Homo sapiens: one gene and its partners. The protein of the gene in region 5 purifies or fractionates together with the protein of the main gene of each other region. This does not show direct contact. Each region holds a gene or a part of one and is shown on either strand. Other genes may lie near its edges. The genes, in order: NENF, NDRG3, HBS1L, JPT1, CPLX1 and GLO1.

The links.
Region 1: the proteins of CPLX1 (region 5) and NENF fractionate together in Homo sapiens (co-fractionation; one large-scale study listed by BioGRID). This does not show direct contact.
Region 2: the proteins of CPLX1 (region 5) and NDRG3 fractionate together in Homo sapiens (co-fractionation; one large-scale study listed by BioGRID). This does not show direct contact.
Region 3: the proteins of CPLX1 (region 5) and HBS1L fractionate together in Homo sapiens (co-fractionation; one large-scale study listed by BioGRID). This does not show direct contact.
Region 4: the proteins of CPLX1 (region 5) and JPT1 fractionate together in Homo sapiens (co-fractionation; one large-scale study listed by BioGRID). This does not show direct contact.
Region 6: the proteins of CPLX1 (region 5) and GLO1 fractionate together in Homo sapiens (co-fractionation; one large-scale study listed by BioGRID). This does not show direct contact.

The regions. Positions count from the first base shown.
Region 1 is NC_000001.11:212,442,920-212,446,879, reverse strand, and holds the end of NENF (neudesin precursor), read right to left. Parts: intron 2,542-3,960; coding exon 2,438-2,541; intron 1,051-2,437; coding exon 874-1,050; 3' UTR 501-873; downstream 1-500. UniProt on the Homo sapiens protein: Acts as a neurotrophic factor in postnatal mature neurons enhancing neuronal survival. Promotes cell proliferation and neurogenesis in undifferentiated neural progenitor cells at the embryonic stage and inhibits differentiation of astrocytes.
Region 2 is NC_000020.11:36,683,591-36,687,090, forward strand, and holds part of NDRG3 (protein NDRG3), read right to left. Parts: intron 886-3,500; coding exon 823-885; intron 1-822.
Region 3 is NC_000006.12:135,044,823-135,048,322, forward strand, and holds part of HBS1L (HBS1-like protein), read right to left. Parts: intron 1-3,500. UniProt on the Homo sapiens protein: GTPase component of the Pelota-HBS1L complex, a complex that recognizes stalled ribosomes and triggers the No-Go Decay (NGD) pathway.
Region 4 is NC_000017.11:75,134,748-75,137,512, forward strand, and holds the end of JPT1 (jupiter microtubule associated homolog 1), read right to left. Parts: exon of another isoform or gene 1,504-2,765; coding exon 1,355-1,503; coding exon of another isoform or gene 1,255-1,354; 3' UTR 501-1,254; downstream 1-500. UniProt on the Homo sapiens protein: Modulates negatively AKT-mediated GSK3B signaling.
Region 5 is NC_000004.12:784,457-788,129, forward strand, and holds the end of CPLX1 (complexin-1), read right to left. Parts: exon of another isoform or gene 3,493-3,673; intron 3,411-3,492; exon of another isoform or gene 3,318-3,410; intron 2,243-3,317; coding exon 2,045-2,242; 3' UTR 501-2,044; downstream 1-500. UniProt on the Homo sapiens protein: Positively regulates a late step in exocytosis of various cytoplasmic vesicles, such as synaptic vesicles and other secretory vesicles.
Region 6 is NC_000006.12:38,696,646-38,700,145, forward strand, and holds part of GLO1 (lactoylglutathione lyase), read right to left. Parts: intron 1-3,500. UniProt on the Homo sapiens protein: Catalyzes the conversion of hemimercaptal, formed from methylglyoxal and glutathione, to S-lactoylglutathione. Involved in the regulation of TNF-induced transcriptional activity of NF-kappa-B. Required for normal osteoclastogenesis.

The DNA of each region.
Region 1 (3,960 bases), on a different chromosome or scaffold from region 5:
TGAAATTTCGGACCGGATGATGCTTTGTCAGGTGCATTACAGAATGTTGACCAGCATCCCTGGCCTCGAGATGCCAGTAGCATCCTGCAGTCATGACAGACAAAAATTAAAAAAAAAAAAATGTTGCCAGACATCACCCAATGTCCCCAGAGGGAAAAATCTGCCCACTCTAACAAAAGGGGCTTCCTCTTAAAATCTGACCTCAGTCCAGCATAAGGAATATGCCTCCCGTTCTTGGAATGACCTCCACCAGGCTCTGCCCACACTGACCCCGGCCCTCCTCACCAATCTCCAGCTGCACGTGCACTGAAGCCAGTTCCCACCCTCACTCCAGCCGGGTTTCCTGGCTCCCTTCCCATCGCCCACCCTCCCACCTCACCACTCTCTTTTCCTGCCCATTGCCTAAATGCCCCACCATCCGGCCCCGCAGGACTATGGAAGAACAACACAGCCCACCCGCTTATGTGGGCTCCAAGGAAATGGCCTCTGGGGAAGAATTCTCCTTTTGTAAAAATGGGACCTTTATTTTTGTTTTGATTATAAAGTGAACATGGTCATGGCTGAAAATCTGTCAAGCACAGAAAAGTATAAAGTAAAGGTCGCTCAAAATTCCACTGCCCAGCCAGCTGATACTGACATCTAGGAGGTGTCCCACTTTGGCTCTTATTGATCCCTGGTGTGCAGACAGGGGTCCCCAGGTAGACAGAACCCCTGACCAAGGACAACAGGAGGCATTTGCTCTTCCAGGGTAAGCATCTGTTTTATTCAGATCTGGGTGGCTCAGGGCCTCCAGGCAGCCAGTTTTGCAGGAGATTCAGCACCTAGTGTCTTCCTGCCTCACGCTCCCAAGAACCTGCTCCTGCAGGGGGAACATCAGAACTCATCCTTGATGTCAAAATGGGGCTGGTCTTCAGGCTTGAAGTCCAGGTTAGGGCTGCCATCCTCATTGAGAATTCTCCGGGCAGTGTAGCCGACGATGGGGTATTTGGCTTTGTACACTTTGGTGAAGACCTCATCCAGGGCCTCCAGTTCCTTGGCCGTGAGACCCGTCTTGGGGAGAAAAGCCCAAGAAAGACAGGAGATGGGGTTAAGTGGATAGTGTTTGGCACTGGCCTTTCTCCATCCCTGCCTTGCCTCCCACATCCCTAATGCAAGAGAAAAGATATCTCAACAAACCAAATAATGGACAAATGGCTTAAGAGACACTGCTGTGGGGGGGGCGTGGGGGTGGGAGGGTATAACATACGGGGAGCAATGCTTCATCACACTTTGTGGTTTGACTGATGGAAGGGATGAAAGACTCCAGAGAGCATGCTGGGGTGGGGCAGGGCATGCCCTATTGCATCTGCATCCCCTTCCTCCCCCCGATTAATCCTCCCTCTCTCTACACTGCTCCCATTATCCCTCTCTCTACACTCCTCCCATTATACATTTGGCACCTTCCCCTTTCTTAAGTTCTTCATTCATTTTTGTAATATTGTTACATTCATTTTGTTATGAGTTTGGCTCATCTCAATTTATCTCAATGTCAGTTTGATGTTGAGCACAGTTAGAGGAAATTCCAGCCTTACTGTTGGAATTATTTAGACCTTGAATAGGTTTAAAAAACAAATTTTTTTTTTTTTGAGATGGAGTCTCACTCTGTTGCCCAGGCTGGAGCACAGTGGCATGATCTCAACTCACTGTAACCTCCGCCCCCTGGATTCGAGCGATTCTCCTGCCTCAACCTCCCAAGTAGCTGGGATTACAGGTGTGCACCACCACACTCAGCTAATTTTTGTATTTTTAGTAGAGACGGGGTTTCTCCATGCTGGCCTGGCTAGTCTCAAACTCCTGACCTCAGGTGATCCACCTGCCTTTGCCTTCCAAAGTGCTGGGATTACAGGCATGATCCACCACTCCTGGCCTAAAAAATGTTTTAATGCTATCTTCTCCTTCACAGAAATATAAGCATAGAGGGAGACCTTTCTTCCCAACCCAGTTCATCCACAAAGCTACCAAGCATGGCCTGGGGAATGGGTCTCAGAGACTAATAGCAAGGCTGTAAGGGGCTGAGGGGATGGGGTGGCAGGTACAGACCATAAGGAGCATTAGGTTGCCAAAGCAGGTTGGGGCCAAATTGTGATGATCACTGAGTTGGATCACAAGTTCATAAGAGTTTGGACTTGACTCTAGGCAACAGACAGCCATGGAAGGTTTCTGAGTCGAGATGACATGGTAGGATAATCTATTTCAAGAAAATGCCTGGCCACCATACCAAGTGGACCGAAGGGTAAATAAGCTAATTAGGAAGGCTTGCTCTTGCCCAGATACACACACACACACACACACACACACACACACACACACACACACACACACGAAAAGAAAAAGAAAAAGAGAAAAAGGCATGGACAAGGAGGTAGAGGATTTTACAAAGGCTTATAATCTGGCTCACAGTGTCATGGGTGAGGTCTGCAGGATCCAAGGACATCTTGGCTACCCCTCTAGTGGAGTCCTTCCCCGTCAAGGCATTGTAGGGGGCTCCTCGTCCATAAAACTCTGTAGTGGGAAGGAAGGAAGAGACGTAAGCGTGGGTTTACATGCAGAGTAACCAGGAGCTTGCACGTGGGGGCGCTCCCAAGGCCCGCACCCAATCCTAAAAAAGACTCCACGCTCACGGAGAGGCCAAACAATGGCGATACAAAGTCCAGTAAGCCACCCCAGCCATCAGGTTGGATTCCACTTACTCTAAATGTGAAGTAAGTCACACATGCAGGCTGAGCAGGGATTTTCAGAAAATATAAAATGAGAATAGTACCCCTACAACCTCTTTTGTTGTTGTTTTTTTTTGACAGGGTCTCACTCTTGCCCAGGCTGGAGTGCAGTGGCACAATCTTGGCTCACTGCAATCTCCACCTCCCGGGTTCAAGCAATTCTCCCACCTCAGCCTCCAGAGTAGCTGGGACTACAGGCATGTGCCACCACCATGCCCAGCTAATTTTTGTATTTTTTTTTTTGAAGAGATGGGGTTTCACCATGTTGCCCAGGCTAGTCTTGAACTCCTGAGCTCACATGATCTGCCCACCTTGGCCTCCTAAAGCGCTGGGATTACAAGCATAAGCCACTGTGCCTAGCCCCCTTCTCGTTCTGTTTTTTCACCTAAGTGTTAATACTGAGAAAATAGTCTCTTAAAAATATTAGAGATGCAGGCTGGGTGCGGTGACTCACGCCTGTAATCCCAGCACTCTGAGAAGCCAAGATGGGCAGATCATTTGAGGTCAGGAGTTCAAGATCAGCCTGGTTAACATGGTGAAACCCCATCTCTACTAAAAATACAAAAATCTGGGCATGGTGGCGTGCACCTGTAATTCCAGTTACTCAGGAGGCTGAGGCAGGAGAATCGTTTGAACCTGGCAGCTGGAGAAGGTCGCATCACTGCACTCTAACCTGGGCGACAGAGCGAGACTGTCTCCAAAAAAAAAATTAAAGATGCAAACAAGAAAAATGTTCCCTCTTCTTAAATGTTGGTGGAAGCCAAATCTATTCCCATTCAGCAGTGTTTGTTATCAAATAATAGATAAACCAATACAAAACTATCTCCAAGATATCATTAGTAGTTACATTAAATGGCACTAAAATGTTCTGTAATGTTCTATAATGCCAACTCTTTACTAAAGAACACTTCTCTCATTGCTTCAACTAGGGTAAATCATTAAGTTTGAATTTAATTCTACAGGCAATGGAAAGTCATGAAAGGCTTTTGAGTAGAAGCATGTCATTATCAGGGGAAAAAAGCCCCTGCTGAAGTAAAACACTGACAAAGATTAACTCAATCTGCTCATTTAAAATGGAAGGAAGGCCAGGTGTGGTGGCTCACACCTGTAATACTAGCACTTTGGGAGGCCGAAGCGGGTGGATCACAAGGTCAGAAGTTCAAGACCAGCCTTGCCAAGATGGTGAAACCCCGTCTCTACTAAA
Region 2 (3,500 bases), on a different chromosome or scaffold from region 5:
TGGGTGATGGAGTGAAACTCCATCTCAAAACAAATAAATAAATAAATAAATATATGTATATATATGTATATATACATATATATATACACACACATATATGTACACACACACACACACACACACATATAAAAATATATATAACTGAAACCTGGGAGTTATCCTTGGTAGCTGTCAGTATCCAACCCATCAGCAAGTCAGTGGAGTCTATCTCCAGAATATATCCATCTACCTACTACTATCTACTTCAATCATCCCCCAACAGCAGCATCCAGTACCATGCTATCATTATCTCTTGCCTGGACTATTGTTAATAGTTTAACTGTTCTCCCTGCTTTCTCTCTCTGATTCTTCTCCAAACCATTCTCTTCTCAGTGAGATGAACGTTTTTAAAAAAATTTAAACAGCTTTATTTTTATTTTTTAGATACAGGGTGTCTCACTGTTACTCAGGCTGGAGTGCAGGGGTGGGATCACAACTCACTGTAGCCTTGAACTGCTGTTGTTAAGTGATCTTCCTGCCACTTGGCCCAGCTCAAGGTAGATTTTTAAATCTTCTAGGTCTCAGCGTGTGTGCCACCTTCCTAGAGAGGAATTCCCTAACTTGCCTTACTAATGTAGATCCCACCCTTATTCTCTATCACAACACCCCCACTGACTTATTTTATAGAACTTTATTATTTGTTTGCTTACTTGTTACCCCACTAAGCTCTAGGAGGACAGTGATAATATTTTTCCTAACCATCATATCCTCTGAAACAGACACTAAATAATTCACCATAGAAAGTCAATAAAAACTGCATGAAAGACTGCAGAATGAACCTACCTTAGGTGGGTAAGAACAGGAGGCAGCATTTCAGCCAGCTCATCCATTGTGGGGTACTGATACCTGCAATCCAGAAGGATATCTCCTGAATTAGAAAGCACTCACAATTCCCAGTTGCTAGAACAGCTGGAAAGGTCCAGAAGTCTTAGATAAAAGGCTGAGCGCAGTAGCTCATGCCTATAATCCCAGCACTTTGGGACACCGAGGTGGGCAGATCACCTGAGGTTGGGAGTTCGAGACCAGCCTGACCAACATGGAGAAACCTCATCTCTACTAAAAATACAAAATTAGCTGGGTGTGGTAGCACATGCCTGTAATCCCAGAAACTTGGGAGGCTGAGGCAGGAGAATTGCTTGAACCTGAGAGGCGGAGGCTGCCGTGAGCGGAGATCATGCCATTGCACTCCAGCCTGGGCAACAAGAGCAAAACTCCGCCTCAAAAAAAAAAAAAAATCTTAGATAAAAGCATTTCCTTTTACCAAAGGCTCAAAGGAGGTGATGTGGTACCCTGAAAATGATTGTGGCATATTGTGTAACTCTCTACAACTGCCATGCTAAGGAGAAAGTAAAATAATCCACGGTTTCTATATCCTAACAAGCAGCCCTTGGGACCAGAGGGTGCCACATGAAAAGAACTAGTAACATGGTTCTCTCTTAGGGTATTTCCAAACCTCTAACAATCTCTTCAGTTGGAGTCCAGGCTCAGTAAACCTCCGGCAGTAAGAGTCAACTCAGAAAGGGGGTCTTGGTCTACTGCTATATTTAGGCAACTAAATGCAAAAATAAAGCTTTTCTAGGTATGGGCACACAGTTACAAACCCTTAGCATGAATGCTTATTTGTTTCACTTAGGCATAGAATAACATAGTTATTTTTAAAATTTTATTATTATTATTATTATTATTATTAATTTTTTAAGAGACATGGTCTCACTCTGTCACCCAGGCTGGAGTGCAGTAGTGAAATCATAGCTCACTGTAACCTTGAACTCCTGGGCTCAAGCTATCCTCCTGCCTCAGGCTTCTGAGTAGCTGGGACTACAGGCGCATGCCACCATGCCTGGCTAATTTTTCAATTTTTTGTAGAGATGGAGTCTCGCTATGTTGCCAGGGCTGGTCTTGAATTCCTGGCCTCAGGTGATCCTCCTACCTCAGCCTAACAAAGTGCTAGAACTACAGGTGTGAGCCACTGTGTCTGGCATGGTTATTTTATTGTATTTGAATTTGGTTCATAATATGAACCATCTGATCCTAAGATGTTCGAGCAGGCCCAGGAACAGACCCAGATCAGAATTCCTAGAAAAGTAGTAAGCATCCGACTGGGAGCGTTGGCTCACGCCTGTAATCCCAACACTTTCAGAGGCTGAGGCAACCAGATTGCTCAAGCCCAGGAGTTCGAGACCAGCCTGAGCAACAGGGCAAAACCCTGTCTCTACAGAAAATAACAATAATTAGCCAGGCGTGTTGGCACACACTTGTAGTCCCAGCTAGTAGGGAGGCTGAGATGGGAGGATCACTTGAGCCCAGGAGGTTGAGGCTGCAGTAAGCCATGATCACGCCACTGTACTCCAGCCTGGGAAACAAAGCACTATCCTATCTCAAGAAAGAAAGAAAAAGTATTACAGAATTGGAGATGGAATTGATCCTAAGATGACCACTTATATATGAGGCAGGATCTGTTCTACATCTGACAGGGAAGTCAGCCTGCCTCTGCCTGAACACTTAAGGGGATGGTGTGCTGTGGAACCATTTGTCCACAAAATAGAAAAAAGGAACTGGATACAAATCTTGTTGGATATAAACTGACCACTGGCCAATTTGCATTTTAGAGTCAGATTCTGGCACCAGACTGTCTGGGTTCAAATCTTAGCTCTGCCACTTATTTGTTATGTAATGTTAGCCATGTTACTTAATTTTTCTGGGCCTCAGTTTCCTCACTTATAAAATGGGAATAATAGTAAACTTATCCCATAGGGTTGTGAGGAGTAAATGAGTTAACAAATGTAAAGCATTTAAAGCAGGGTCTGGAACACGGTTTGAGTACTATTTAAATATTAGCTATTATTTGTCTGCAATTGTCTATTTCCCAGCAGTCACTGGCCAAAGGCAGCTCTGGAGATGAGTGAAAGGATAGGGGAAGAATTAGCATTCCACAGAGTGTGTGCTCACTCCTCCTAAGGTCTTCTCAATAAGCACCCGTCCAGGGAACAAACAGGTAGGGAGCCTATGACTCTGCCCTGCGAAGCAGATGTAGGAGGAAGCTGAGAGTGCCAAAGCCAATCAATCACCCCACACCTCTATCTGCCAGGACAGCCTCTCAGAATAAACAGTTACACAGATAGTCAAATTTCCATTACTAGTTTGAGAGCTAAGGATGGGGAGATGCTCCCAGGAAAGCTCAGAGAGATCTGAATTTGGGCCTAAGTAGTTGGGAGTTTTGAGGAAGGACACAAAAATGACAGGTTTTTTTGTTTGTTTGTTTTCTTTCTGGGGACAGGGTCTTGCTCAGTCATCCAGGCACTGCAGCCTCAATCCCCTGGGCTCAAGTGATCCTCCCACAACAGCCTCCCAAGCAGACACGACCACAGGTGAACACCACCATGCCTGGCTGGCTAATTTTTCAATTTTTTGTAGAGACAAGGTATTCCTATGTTATCCAGGCTGGTCTTGAACCCCGGGGC
Region 3 (3,500 bases), on a different chromosome or scaffold from region 5:
ACTAAGTGAGGCATGAAATCAGATGTTTCCCTCAACAAGTTTCAGTCAGGAAATACTGACAGGGAAGAGGAAGTTTTCAATGCACAGGCTTCTCCTCTGCCTGCCAGGAGCTATTTTTTCTGTGGTGGGGTCGAGGGTGGTCCTATACGACCACACACACCCAACACATAACTCCAACTCAAAAACCCATACTGTGGCCACTATTTTGGAAGTAGTAATGGTTGGATTTGCAAAGGGTGGGTGGGGGGAAGAGTAAGAAAACTCCCCCAGGAGAAGTATTGGGTCGCTGCAAAAGTAACCGCAGGTCTTTCCATTACTTTCAAAGGGTGGGTGGGTGAGGTGGGGAGCGGTCCAAACCTCTGAAGTTGTACTGAGAGCCCCAAAAGCAACAAATACAACAAATAAAGGAGTGAGAGAAAGTAATGATGAGAAAATGGTAAATACAAAATGCTATTCTCTAAAATTTTAAATCACAAACTTTGATGGAAGTGCCTTCTGAAAAAACAGACACCTATAATTTTTAAAATTTAAGGCATTTTGACAAACATAAAAGTGCAAAGAATTCAAAACCTAACACCTGAAACTTCCTACAATGGTTTCCTAAACATCTTAAAATAAAAATCACATGAGGCATTCATTAAAAATACAGATTTCTAGGCTTCTTCCCCGGGAGATTATGACTCAGTGGTGCTGGAATGAAGCAGGAAATTTGTATTCTTAAGAATTATTCTGGCCAGGCACAGTGGCTCATGCCTGTAATCCCAGCACTTTGGGAGGTCCAGGCAGGTGGATCACCTGAGGTCAGGAGTTCAAGACCAGCCTGGCCAACATGGCAAAACCCCATCTCTACTAAAAATACAAAATTAGCTAGGCGTGGTGGCGGGCGCCTGCAATCCCAGCTACTTGAGAGGCTGAGGCGTGAGAACTGCTTGAACCTGGGAGCCAAGTGGAGGTTGAGGTGAGCCGAGATCGTGCCACTGCACTCCAGCCTAGGCTACAGAATGAGACTCCGTCTCAAAAAAAAAAAAATGATTCCCAGCAGATTCATATCACAAGGTAAGATTAAGAAACACTGGTGAACTACAAGTCTCCCCTTTATTCTGGCCCACCTATACGCCACTTTGTGGACCATGATCAGTTATCTGCACAAAATACTAGCTCCCTTACTCAAAAAACTCCAATAAGTTGACACTAAAAACACAAAATTAGAAACTGTCTTTCACAATTTCATTCCTATTTTCTTTCCTAGCCCTCTTTCCTCCTGCCACTTGCATTAATCCTGGTAGTCTGATGAAACAAGCCTCACTCAGAGGCCATTGCTTAAGCAACGTTGTTTCCTCTAGCTGGGATGCCATTCTTACTCCCAAATTTCCTAGCTTCAATCCCACCTCCTTCTAGAAGCCTTCCCAGACTCCTTCAGTCAGGGTTATTTTCTTTACCCACAGTACTGTTGTAGCAAGTTATTTGAACAAGACTTTAAACAAGCTTCCTTATACCAAACTAATTTATAAATGTATTAGAATAGTGTTTTTCTTACAAAAAAAAAAAAGAATATACAATAAAGGTGTGAAATTAGAATGGAGCAAACAAAGATTACTTCTAATCATATTAGCTGAAACAAAATACATCACCATTCAAATAAAGTTTTATATGCAAACTCCTTTTGCTACCCCCTACTCTTTGACATAGGTTCAATACTCAGTATCAATCTTTCTAAAAGAAAGAAAAGTTAACGTTTAAAAATCACCATCCTAGGCTGGGCATGGTGGCTCACACCTATAATCCTGGCACTTTGGAAGGCCGACACAGGAGGATCACTGGAGCTCAGGAATTTGAGACAAGCCTGGGCAGCATAGTGAGACCAGGAAAATTGAGCTTAATAGAATTCAAAAAAATATACACGTGCTGATGAATTTTAGAAAGAAATTCCAATTAATTGATAAAGTCTTTCAATTATCAGACTTCATTACACCATGAATACAATCAGCTTTTCAATGACATTAGCTGCTTAAGAATAGAAAATATTCTTCTAAAACCATTCATTTTTTATTGAAAATTACTTGGAAAATATACCACTATAGAGGAAAGTAAGTTTCTTATCTGATGTTACTGCTATTTTAAAATGTTTTGAAAAATTTAAAAATCCAAAGTCGTATGCTTTTGTTAAAAATCAGTTTGTCACAGAAGAAACCAAAAACATTTAACTATCTCCTGCTTTGATAAGATCAGTTGGCTTCTTGGTGTGTTTGAAAAGTAACTCTCAGAGTCAGACTGTCCTGAATACAAACCACAGGTAAGAGCCACATCAAAAGCTATGAGAGACACATGGATAAACTCCGTCTCTGTCCTCAAGGAAGCTAGGCCATAAATGCAAGTCTCAGAGAAACACCCTTTGAAGGTCTGACTTTGTACTATTACCTTATTATTCAAGATAACATAACATTTATCCAGAGAAGCCTAGATAAATGACTGGGTTAACCTGCAATATTAAGGTGTCTTTCAGTAATCCCCCCTCTGAAAGATTCCACGCTTATACAAAGCCATATTCAACCAACTTCCAAGTCCTGCAGACCTCAACTCCTGTAAATTTTCTCTTGAATGTATTTCCAAATCCAATGCTACCAACTCTTGCCCTAAACAAATGGTTCTCAATGCATACCACGAGCATACCCCAGTGGGCTTGTTAAAACATCTGCTATGCCTCACTCCTAGTTTCTGACTCTTGGGTGGAGTCCCCAACATTGCATTTCTAACAAACTCTCAAGCGATGCTGATGGTTCACTTTGAGAACACTGTCCTAAAATAGCCTCATCTCCTCTAGATAAATACATATAACAGTCTCCTAACGAGTCTACTTACATCCACCCATATACCACCTTTAATCCATTAACTATGTATTAGAGATTTTTTTAACTCAAATCTAATATAACCATATCATCTTCTCAGTTCTATATGCCATGCTCTCTAATGTGCTTAGAATGTGAGTGATGAGGATAGCACTACCAGACATCACTTTGTCACCTCTAATATTTAAGTTACCTAGTCAACTGTGATGCTGAATTATAGGAGCCCCAAAGGGCAAATGCCTAGGAGGTTCCTAGAAAAATGTGAAATTGTTTTATTCCTAAGTCACTACAAAATGTCTTCTCTTTTGAACCCCTGAATAAGGAGCTATAAAGGAATGCTGCTTATTAAGCCACCTCTCAGCTTCTAACCTACCATCCTTTACTCAGCTTTGTGATGCTGGATTGAAGTCACTGCAAAGCACATTTCTTCTTTGATACCCGGCTCCCTTTTAGGATCATCCAATAAGGAGATATGAAAGGGACACCGGAAAGCCAGAGAAGGCAGGCACATGCTCCTTTCCTTTTGCTTCTTGTTCCAGTATCACCCCAGCAATACTCACTTCACCTTCCAGAAGCAGTTTCTTCCAGTAACTGCAATTAATATCCGTTTTCAGTTTTTCCAAAACTCCCAGAACCAGCTTCAATTTGCCTCTT
Region 4 (2,765 bases), on a different chromosome or scaffold from region 5:
TGGAGTACAGTGGTGCGATCATGGCTCACTGCAGCCTTGATCTCACAGGGTGAAGCAATCCTCCTGCCTCAGCCTCCCGACTACAGGCGTGTGCCATCACACCTGGCTATTTTTGGTAGAGACGAGGTTTCACCATGTTGCCCAGTCTTGGAGAACACTTTAAAATGTTACTGCCCAGAACAAAGGGGAGGTAGAAGAGTCTAACCTGCTCATCTTTAGAGCCTTCTTCAGAAAGAAACCCACTCCTCTCTGGGTCTTCATCTGTTTTAAGATTTTGTTTTTTAAGGAGGTCTCGCTATGTTGCCCAGGATAGTCTCAAACTCCTGGGCTCAAGCATCCTCTTGCCTTGGCTTCCCAAGTAGCTAATTACAGGCACATCTGGCTATTTAACTTCAAATGACTCCTCCAATCAGTAGGCAGGATTTATAGTGACAAAGAGAAAAGCATCTAACCAGGGAGAACACTGAAACCATCTCAAAAAGAAGACACAGTACACAGTGTTTCAAAATGTGGATATTGTTTACTTGAAGCAACAGTCCAGGATTGTGAAGTACAACACATTTTAAGGATGAGACTTTCCTTTCATGGTCAAGCACCAGCATCATGCACACAGCATCAGGTTATTTAAAACAACACGCCTGTGGGACCCCGTTCCTGGAGGAAGACCCGCTTCAGTGTGATTGCCTCCCTTGCTTCACTGCTTTTAGTTCCAGGCAGTTTCATTGTACATCCAAGCCTTCCTCTGCGTGAGAGCAAAGGCTTTGCTCATCAGCCAGCCAGTCTTGTTACTATCTGGCTACTTTTTAAGGTTAAAAAATAAAAGGCAGTTTCTTTGCTTTGCAGGCGGCAAGGCAGGAGGCGCAGGCCTCTTCATTGTTCACATGTCACAGGAGGAGGCTCTGAGCAAAGGCCACTGGCAAGTTAGGGCAACACCAAGAAGGCTCTGCGGAGAGACTCCCTGTGGGTTGGGGCCTGGCAGGAACGGTGCCTGTGGACTGTTTATGGTCTGTCCAGTTGAGGCTTGGTAAACCCAAGTAAAGTGTTAAAAACCTCAGTACAAAAGATCCTCTAACACATCTGGAACCAAATTATTTCTTCTTAAAAACACAGTACTAAGTGTCACAAAGCTTTCCCTCCAATCTACTACTAGAAAACACTCATGCCATGGCCCACAGACCCAAGAGTCAAGGACAGAGAGAAACCTGTTCTTCAAAAGAAAAAAAAAAAAGACAGCAGTACATAAAGTGCTTCTTTTTAATGAAACAAATCCAAGAGATGTACAGTCAGGCTCAAGTTGTGCAGTTCACAAGCATGGAGGAAACAGACAGAACGACAGCGTTCAGGACAGTCAGAGCTAACCCAAGACGAGGCTGGACTTGCCGCCAGGGGGATTTCTTCTGGATGGCACTGGGGCCGGGGCCACCGGGCTGGGCACAGGCGCAGCAGGCACGGGCTTCTCTTCACTCTGCCCCAGGCTGCCTGGCAAGTCTGTGTCCACATTTTCTATGAAAACAGGGAATAGAAATAATACTCATAATGACAGCCATTTCCTGTTAAGATCAAGGATCTGTTTCTCTTTTTCTTTTTTTTTTGGTTTGATGGTTGGAAACATACCTAAAAGCATAAACAAAATAATCACCCACCATGCTCCCACTCCACAGAATTAACCATTGTTCATCTTTTCCCATATTTGTTGTTTATGTTCTTTTCTAAATTACACAAATATATAAGGACATGAAGTTTTTTTTTGTTTTGTTTTGTTTTTTGACGGAGTCTCGCTGTTGCCCAGGCTGGAGTGCAATGGTGCAGTCTTGGCTCACTGCAACCTCCACTTCCCAGGTTCAAGCAATTCTCCTGCCTCAGCCTCTCTAGTAGCTGGGATTACAGGCGCCTGCCGCCATGCCCGGCTAATTCTTGTATTTTTAGTACAGATGGGGTTTCACCATCCTGGCCAAGCTGGTCTTGAATTCATGACCTTGTGATCCACCTGCCTCGGCCTCCCAAAGTGCTGGGATTACAGGCGTGAGCCACCGCGCCTGGCCCAAGGACATGAAGATTTTTAAATAAGAACAGGGAACTCTAGCTCTACGGCCCCTTCCAGCTCCGGGTGGATCCTGCTCCCCCTATTCCCAGAGGTCCCACTGCAAGTCCTGTGCAGCCTTCTAGTCCACTTGTTTTATGTATATTTACATGTAGCCAGATAACATGTAACATGTTTTGGTTATATTTAACATAAATGGTATCAACTTCTTTTTTTCACTCTTGGAAATGTATCCATATTTACAAACAGGGTAGTAATTCGCCTTGCTTATTAACTGTATGTTTTCAAATCCCTCACCTCACTGTCAAGCTTCATTGCTTTATAGTAATTATCACATGATATAGGCTATTTATCCAATTCTCTGACAGCAAAAAAACTGGAACCCATCCAATTTTCCAAATGAATTGTCTCTCATTAGGGTTGTTTCTAAACCGGGAAAAAACTGATTCAAAGTGCAAAGTGAATGCAAAAATTCTATATTTTCTATGAAAGGAAACTTTTACTAAGAGCTTAATAGTATACATATTTTTAGTTTTTTTGTTTGTTTGTTTTTTGTGGAGGGGTGGGGTGGCAGGTGGAGGATATTGAGACAGGGTCTCACTCTGTGGCCCAGGCTGGAGTGCAGTACCTCAATCACAGCCCACTGTAGCCTCAAACTCCTGGGCTCAAGCAATCCTCCTATATCAGTCTCCCAAATAGCTGGGACTACAGGCGCGCACCACCA
Region 5 (3,673 bases):
AGCAACCAGGCAGAGGGGCTGTTCTCTGGGTTGGGGTCAGGAACCTCTTCTGGCCTCAGCCCAGGTTGGCAGACATTTCCCTGCAGGGATCCGGGTCCAGGACTCAGGAGGAGGGACAGTCCCACGGGGGTGCTGGGGGGCAGGAATTCCTGGGTGGGCCGAGGTAAGGGCAGCACAGGGTGACCTGGGGCCCTGGGCCCGGTGGAGCTGAGGAGAGGGACAGGCCTGTGGTCGGGGGTCCTAGGTGGGAGGGAGAGCAGAGGGCAGATGCTTTGCGGGTGGAAGAACCACCCTGGGGGGCGGGAGACCCTGAAGGCGCAGGTTTGTGTTTAGATGGAGGTTGCGCTGGCTGGACGGCCTAGGGAAAATGGGTCTGACTGGATGGAGCTGAGTGAGAATGGTGGGAGGCCCTGCAGCCGCCGTGGAGAGAACATGCGCGGGGGAAAGCCCCGGTCCTCCGGCTGGCGAAATGGACCTCTGGAAGGAATGGCCACACGGTGTGAAATCACTGGTGTTTATTGGCTGTGATTCCATCCGGAGAGAACACACGCAGGGGCCCCGACATGCAGGAGGAGGCGCAGGCGCAGGACAGACGGACAGAGGACACCACGGTCTAAGCTAAGCTCGCGGCCCGGGGCGCCATGCGCTGGGAACGGGGTGCGCAGGTTCTACGAGAGGACGCCCTGTCTGCTCAGAGCTGGCTTTGTAAGGTGTGAAAACAGGAGTTTTTAAAAGACACGACCCGGGAGAAGTCAGTGAGAGGGCACAGGGCGAGCAGGACGGACAGCGACGTCCCCGCGGGCCGCGTCGCTGGGGCGCAGAGGGGCGCGGTGGTCTCTGCCCGGAGGGGCGTCGGTCGTTAGTATTGCAGTCTAACGTTATGGCTTCTCTAAAGCTATGTAAGGTCATGAAGGTCAATGCCAAGCCACGCCCTGGCCCGAAACACGTGGAGACTTGATGCATTTTTGATGTGGACGAAAGGGCCCGGGGGCGAGGCGGCGCCTGTCAAGATAAAACTCATTAAATGCAAAGACCTCATTTACCTGAGATTCAACAAATTGTGATGCAAATTAAACATGAATGGAGGAGAAACAGGGGCTCGGATGCCGCCCCGCAGGGCCACCAGGTGGATTAGGCCACACACGCGCCAGCTGCGCGCAGGGAACCCCGCAGGCCCCACCCGAGGAGCTGCCCACGGAGGAGGTGCTGGGCAGGGGCGCAGGGTCTCCAGCGTCCGGTGCCTCGGGCCTCTGCGGCTCCTGTGGAGGGTGCAGTGTTCAATGGCCGAGGGCAGGGGTCCTCCCCAGGGAGAAGCAGCAGCCGCGTGGGCGGAGAGGCTAGGAGGCCGGGCGGGGGGCGAGGACTTGGGAAGAGCGGGGTGACGGGGGTGGGGGCTGGGCGTCCCCCAAACCTATTGCTTTGTTTCCTTTAGTTTAGAAGTGAACACGGCCGTGGCGTTCGTAAGAAGCAAAACCTTCCAGAGAGGAGAGGAAAGGACGCGGACAGAGACGGATGGACAGGGGCGCGAGGGGGCCAGGCCGGGGGGCGGAGAGCGGCCGCGTGCGGACGCAAATACTCACGGCGGAGCGATCCGAACCCCGGAGTCCGCGTGCAGGAGGGGGACCCAGGCCCCGCCGCCCTCGCCCCGCCCGCAGCCCCCCGTCTGCTATGGCTGTGCTCCTGAGTGCGGGCCCGACAGGCGCCCACCGCCGCGAACGCGCGCACAGGGGTGGTCGCGGGGCTGCCCTTCGGCGGCCCTGGCCTCGGGCGCTGCTGGGTGGGCGGTAAACAGCAAGAGAAAGGGGCGTCCCAGGCGATGGGGCTCCAGCCACCCGCGGGCAGAGGAGCACGGGGCGGACTGGGGGGGTCCTGGGGGCGCGCGCCCCTTGCCGGGTGAGGGAGGCGGCGGGCGCGGGCAGGGCGGGCCTGGGGCTATGGCTTATATCGGCGTGGGGGCTGCGCTCTGCTCGTCCCTCAGGGGCCTCCGCGGAGGATCTGTAGGGGGAGGGGCGGGGGCTCCGCGGGGCCGCTGTCCCGCGCGCGGCTACTTCTTGAGCATGTCCTGCAGCGGCCCGGGCAGGTACTTGATGACGGTGTCCAGGATGCTCTCGTCCTCCTCCTCCACCTCGTCCCCGCAGCCCGGCGGGATGGCCTTCTTGGGCCGCGTCAAGCTCCCCTCGGAGTTGGCCTCCATGGCGGCCTGGGCCTCGGCCTCGCGCTCCTCCTTCTTCTTGATGCCGTACTGCGGGGGAGGCGGGGGTCAGGGCGGGGGTCCCGGCGGCTCCCGGGCGGGCCGCAGCCTCCCTGCGCCAGGGACTGGCCCAGGAACCCCCGAAGGCGTGGGTGCGGCCCCCTACCCCACCAGGCACACAAGGACCCCAGAAGGAGAAGAGACCCCACCCCGGGGGGTCCCTGGAGGAATGGGAAGCCCCCACGGAGAATGGGGGCCAGGAGCTGACATGGGGGGGAGCAGGGAGGGGGAGGCTCCCATCTTCCTTGAGAGGAGAGAGGGCTGTGGCCCCACCTCTGGCTCCAAACCCAGCCCAGCCCCTGGCATCCTGCCTTCCAGGAAGCCTCCGGCCCGGGGCAGGGAGGGGTGGGCAGGATGCTGCGTGGCAGAGGTGGGGAGAAACAGTCAACCCGCAGCTGACCCTCCTGCCCAGTGCCTGGTCCACGACCTGCATTCACACTCCCGGGCCTGGCCAAGGCTGCCTGGATGCGGCCGCGGCCCCAGCAGGGCCACTCCCTGGCAGGCCGCTGCAGCTCCGTGGGCAGCCGGCAGAGGGTCCTGGGCTGCGGTCACTTCCAGGCACTGGGTGTCCTGGAATCCCGCCTAGTCGTGCCCTCAGCCAGTATGCCTGGGCCTCACCGACCCCCTGCCCACCCGCGTTTCTCATCTCCCGTGAGTGCGTCTGCCCTCCGTAGTAGCTGAATATTGTCCCCCTCAAATTCATATTGCCTGGAGCTTCAAAGGTGATCTCATTCGGAAACAGGTCTTTGTTGATCTCATAATGGTAAGGATGGGGACGAGGCCATCCTGGATTTGAGGGGCCTCAAGTCCAGTGAGAGTGTCCTTGTAAGAGACAGAAAGGACAGACACCCGGATGGGGGCGGGCATACGAAAGCGGAGGAGGTCGCGAGTGGTCAAGAAACACCAGGGATTCGGGGCCGCCAGACGCAGGAAGGGGCAGGGAAGGGCCCTCCCCCAGAGCCTCCAGAGGGAGTGTGGGATTTTGTTCTTCTGCCCTCCAGGCCTCTAAGTTTTTGTCAGGCCCCGGGGTTTTGGTTTCTAGATCAATACGCCTCCCCACGCCACACTCCTCCAGCCCTCCCGTGAGCCACCAGCCCAGGAAGCCTGTGGTCATGGTCAGGCCACGGAACTACGGAACAGCCTCCTGCTGCCCAGGAAGGTGGGAACCAGTGGGGTTGGGCTGGCCTGGAAGGATTGGGGGCCTGGTGTTGTACGGAGCTGGACTTCCATCCCCTGAACAGGACCCCCGGGCCAGGTCCAAGGTCCTGGATCTGAGATTACAGGTGCTCTGGAGTAGTGAAGGCGTCAGCAGCTGCGTCCAGGAGAAAACTTAGGAGGGGAGTGGGCACCAGCACTCTACAGGACGGAGGAGCACACCGCGGGATCACCAGCCACAGGGAGGGGCCTTTCTGCCCAGGAGGA
Region 6 (3,500 bases), on a different chromosome or scaffold from region 5:
TAATACCTGCCTCAGGGATTAGGATTTCAACACATGAATTTTGAGGGGACACAAACATTCAGACCATAGCACCTTTATTACCCTCAGTCTGCAGAAAGGAGAAGTTCCACACTTGCATTAGCCATATTTTCAGAAATTAAAAAATTTCTCTGGTTTAAAAAATGTTGTCTTTCGACCTTAATAAGACTGAGACCAATTCCCTTTAGAGACTATCTACTTTGTCTCTCAAATAACTTTCAAAAGTGTTATATTGCCCCCAACAGAAAGCCTTCTTCTTTTTTTTTTTTTTTTGAGATGGAGTCTCACTCTGTTGCCCAGGCTGGAGTGCAATGGCACGATCTCGGCTCACTGCAACCTCTGCCTCCCAGGCTATTCTCCTGCCTCAGCCCCCTGAGTAGCTGGGATTACAGGCACGCGCCACCATGTCTGGCTAATTTTTTTGTATTTTTAGTAGACACAGGGTTTCACCATGTTGGTTAGGCTGGTCTCGAACTCCTGACCTCATGATCCACCCACCTTGGTCTCCCAAAGTGCTGGGATTACAGACGTGAGCCACCGGGCCTGGCCCAGAAAGTCTTCTTAAGGCTCAACTAAACATCCAGACTTATAAGACAACCATAGCCATAGGCCATACATGGTGCCAGTTTACTCAAAACGGTATCTGTTAGGAAAACACAGATTGCCAACAAAGAAGTATCAGGTGTTCCTCTTCAGTGGGAGTCCTTACAGGAGTCGACACAGATCAGGTACAGGGAGAAGATTCACACTGGATATGAATGAGAATCACCCTAGGGCAGAAGGCCCCATGTACCACAGGAGCCAGTATCTCTAGTAGCAACTCCATAGGCAGAACTTCTAGAATTTCCACAAGGGACAGTTATAAGAGTCACTACAATCAGGGAAGTCCAAAGCTATGGCTTCCTTTCAAGTATTTACAATTCTCCCTCTCCAGATGCAATTTACCAATTGGGTTATTTTTACCATAAGCAACAAACACAATTTTTCATTGTTTTCTGGGAAACTAGGGAGTTAACGAAAAGTCAAATTTTCATAAAAGGGGAAAGGGTTTGTTAACTCTTTATTACTAGGTGTCACATCTCCCACAAAACAAAAGTGAACAAAGTGGTTTTCACCAGACTTTTAAAAATGAGCTTTTCAACTGCCTTCAGTGTATCTTGAGGAAAGCAAGAAGTCCTCACTACTTCCTGCCTAGACAATTATCTCTTTGCTTTTCATAGGCTTATCTACATGCAATTTGGAGTGATCTTTCCATAAAGAAAACCCTGTCATGTCATTTTTGGCTTAAAAATCAATACTTCAGTGGTTCCTCAACACATTTGAGAGACAGTCCCAAAAGCAACCACATATGTAGCTGCATACTTCTCTAACACCAACGGTTATCACCACTCCCCTAAACCGGTCATCTCAAACATTTTCTATTTCATACCCTTATCACTTAAATAGCAACCATTACAGGGTGAGAAAAACAAATGAATATAATGGGAATTCTCATCTTTTCTTTGAGTACCCTAATGATTGTTTTGGTCACCCTTCCCTCAAGTCCCACTGCTTATAACTTCATTCACTGTGTTACCCGTAGGTCCCTGCCTCAGTTCTCTGATGTCATTATGCCTTTATATATATTATGATTCTCTATGCCTTGAATAGTCAGCCATTTATCTGGCCATTGTCCTTCTTCCTTCCTCCTTTCCATTCCCTATTCTCCTTTCTACTGCATTCAATTCCACCAATCTACCTGATTGGAGAGGGACCCCATCATATATATATATATTCATATATTTATAGATATATTTATATATTAATATATATTAATTTTTTATATTTTTATATATTCATATATTTATATATGGAACGATGTGAAAATGGACATTGGCAGTGGTGGTAGAAATAATGGCAACACTGAGGACATTGTCTACTGTATTAGTGGAGACAGATACAGATAGTAAAAAAGAAAAGATCTCCAGATCACTACTTGGAAGGAGAACCTGACCTTTTTTTTTTTTTTTTTTTTGAGACGGAGTCTCTCTCTGTTGCCAGGAGAATCTGACCTTTTAAAGAAAGTTAGCCCAGAGAGATTGCCCAAAATGTGACATAGCCATACATTCTCTGGACTTCCTTTATAATGAAGATGCAAATGATCAAAAAACAAGTCGACTTTGTGCCATTGCTGCTGTCTTCTTTACAAACGAGACCCTCATATCACTTATCTCACCTTCTGGAAGAGCTTTTTAAGTGGCCTAATCACCTCCAGACTTGGATCCCTCCAATCTACTTTATAGAATACTTCAAAACCCTGACTCATTCCCCACTATGTATATAAAATCTAACTTCCTTAGATGTGACACTCAAAGCTGTCTCCACAATCTGGCCCCAACCTACCATGTTAGCCTCTTCCACCACTGCTTAGATAACCTGAACTGCAACCAATAACATTTAACTAACTCTCCAGTACCTGCCCTGCATTGCAATTCTACCATCCTAAAACTGTTGTGGGAAGTCAGGGACCCCGAATGGAGGGACCAGCTGGAGCTGTGGCAGAGGAACATAAATTGTGAAGATTTCATTTTAATATGGACATTTATCAGTTCCCAAATAATACTTTTATAATTTCTTATGCCTGTCTTTAATCTCTTAATCCTGTTATCTTCGTAAGCTGAGGATGTACATCACCTCAGGACCACTGAGATAATTGTGTTAACTGTACAAATTGATTGTAAAACTGTGTTTGAACAATATGAAATCGGCGCACCTTGAAAAACAACAGAAAAACAGCGATTTTAGGGAACAAGGGAAGACAACCATAAGGTCTGACTGCCTGAGGGGTCGGACAAAAAGAGCCATATTTTTCTTCTTGCAGAGAGCCTATAAACGGACGTGCAAGTAGGAGAGATATTGCTAAATTATTTTCCTAGCAAGGAATATTAATATTAATACCCTGGGAAAGGAACGCATTCCTGGGGGGAGGTCTATAAACGCCCGCTCTGGGAATGTCTGTCTTATGAGGTTGAGATAAGGACTGAGATACGCCCTCGTCTCCTGCAGTACCCTCAGGCTTACTAGGGTGGGGAAAAAACTTCACCCTAGTAAATTTGTGGTCAGACCGCTTCTCTGCTCTCGAACCCTGTTTTCTGTTGTTTAAGATGTTTATCAAGACAATACGTGCACTGCTGAACATAGACCCTTATCAGTAGTTCTGCTTTTGCCCTTTGCCTTGTGATCTTTGTTGGACCCTTATCAGTAGTTCTGCTTTTGCCCTTTGCCTTGTGATCTTTGTTAGACCCTTATTAGTAGTTCTGCTTTTTGCCCTTTGAAGCATGTGATCTTTGTACCTACTCCCTGTTCTTACACCCCCTCCCCTTTTGAAACCCTTAATAAAAACTTGCTGGTCTAAGACTCAGGTGGGCATCACAGTCCTACTGATATGTGATGTCACCCCCCGGCAGCCCAGCTGTAAAATTCCTCTCTTTGTACTCTTTATT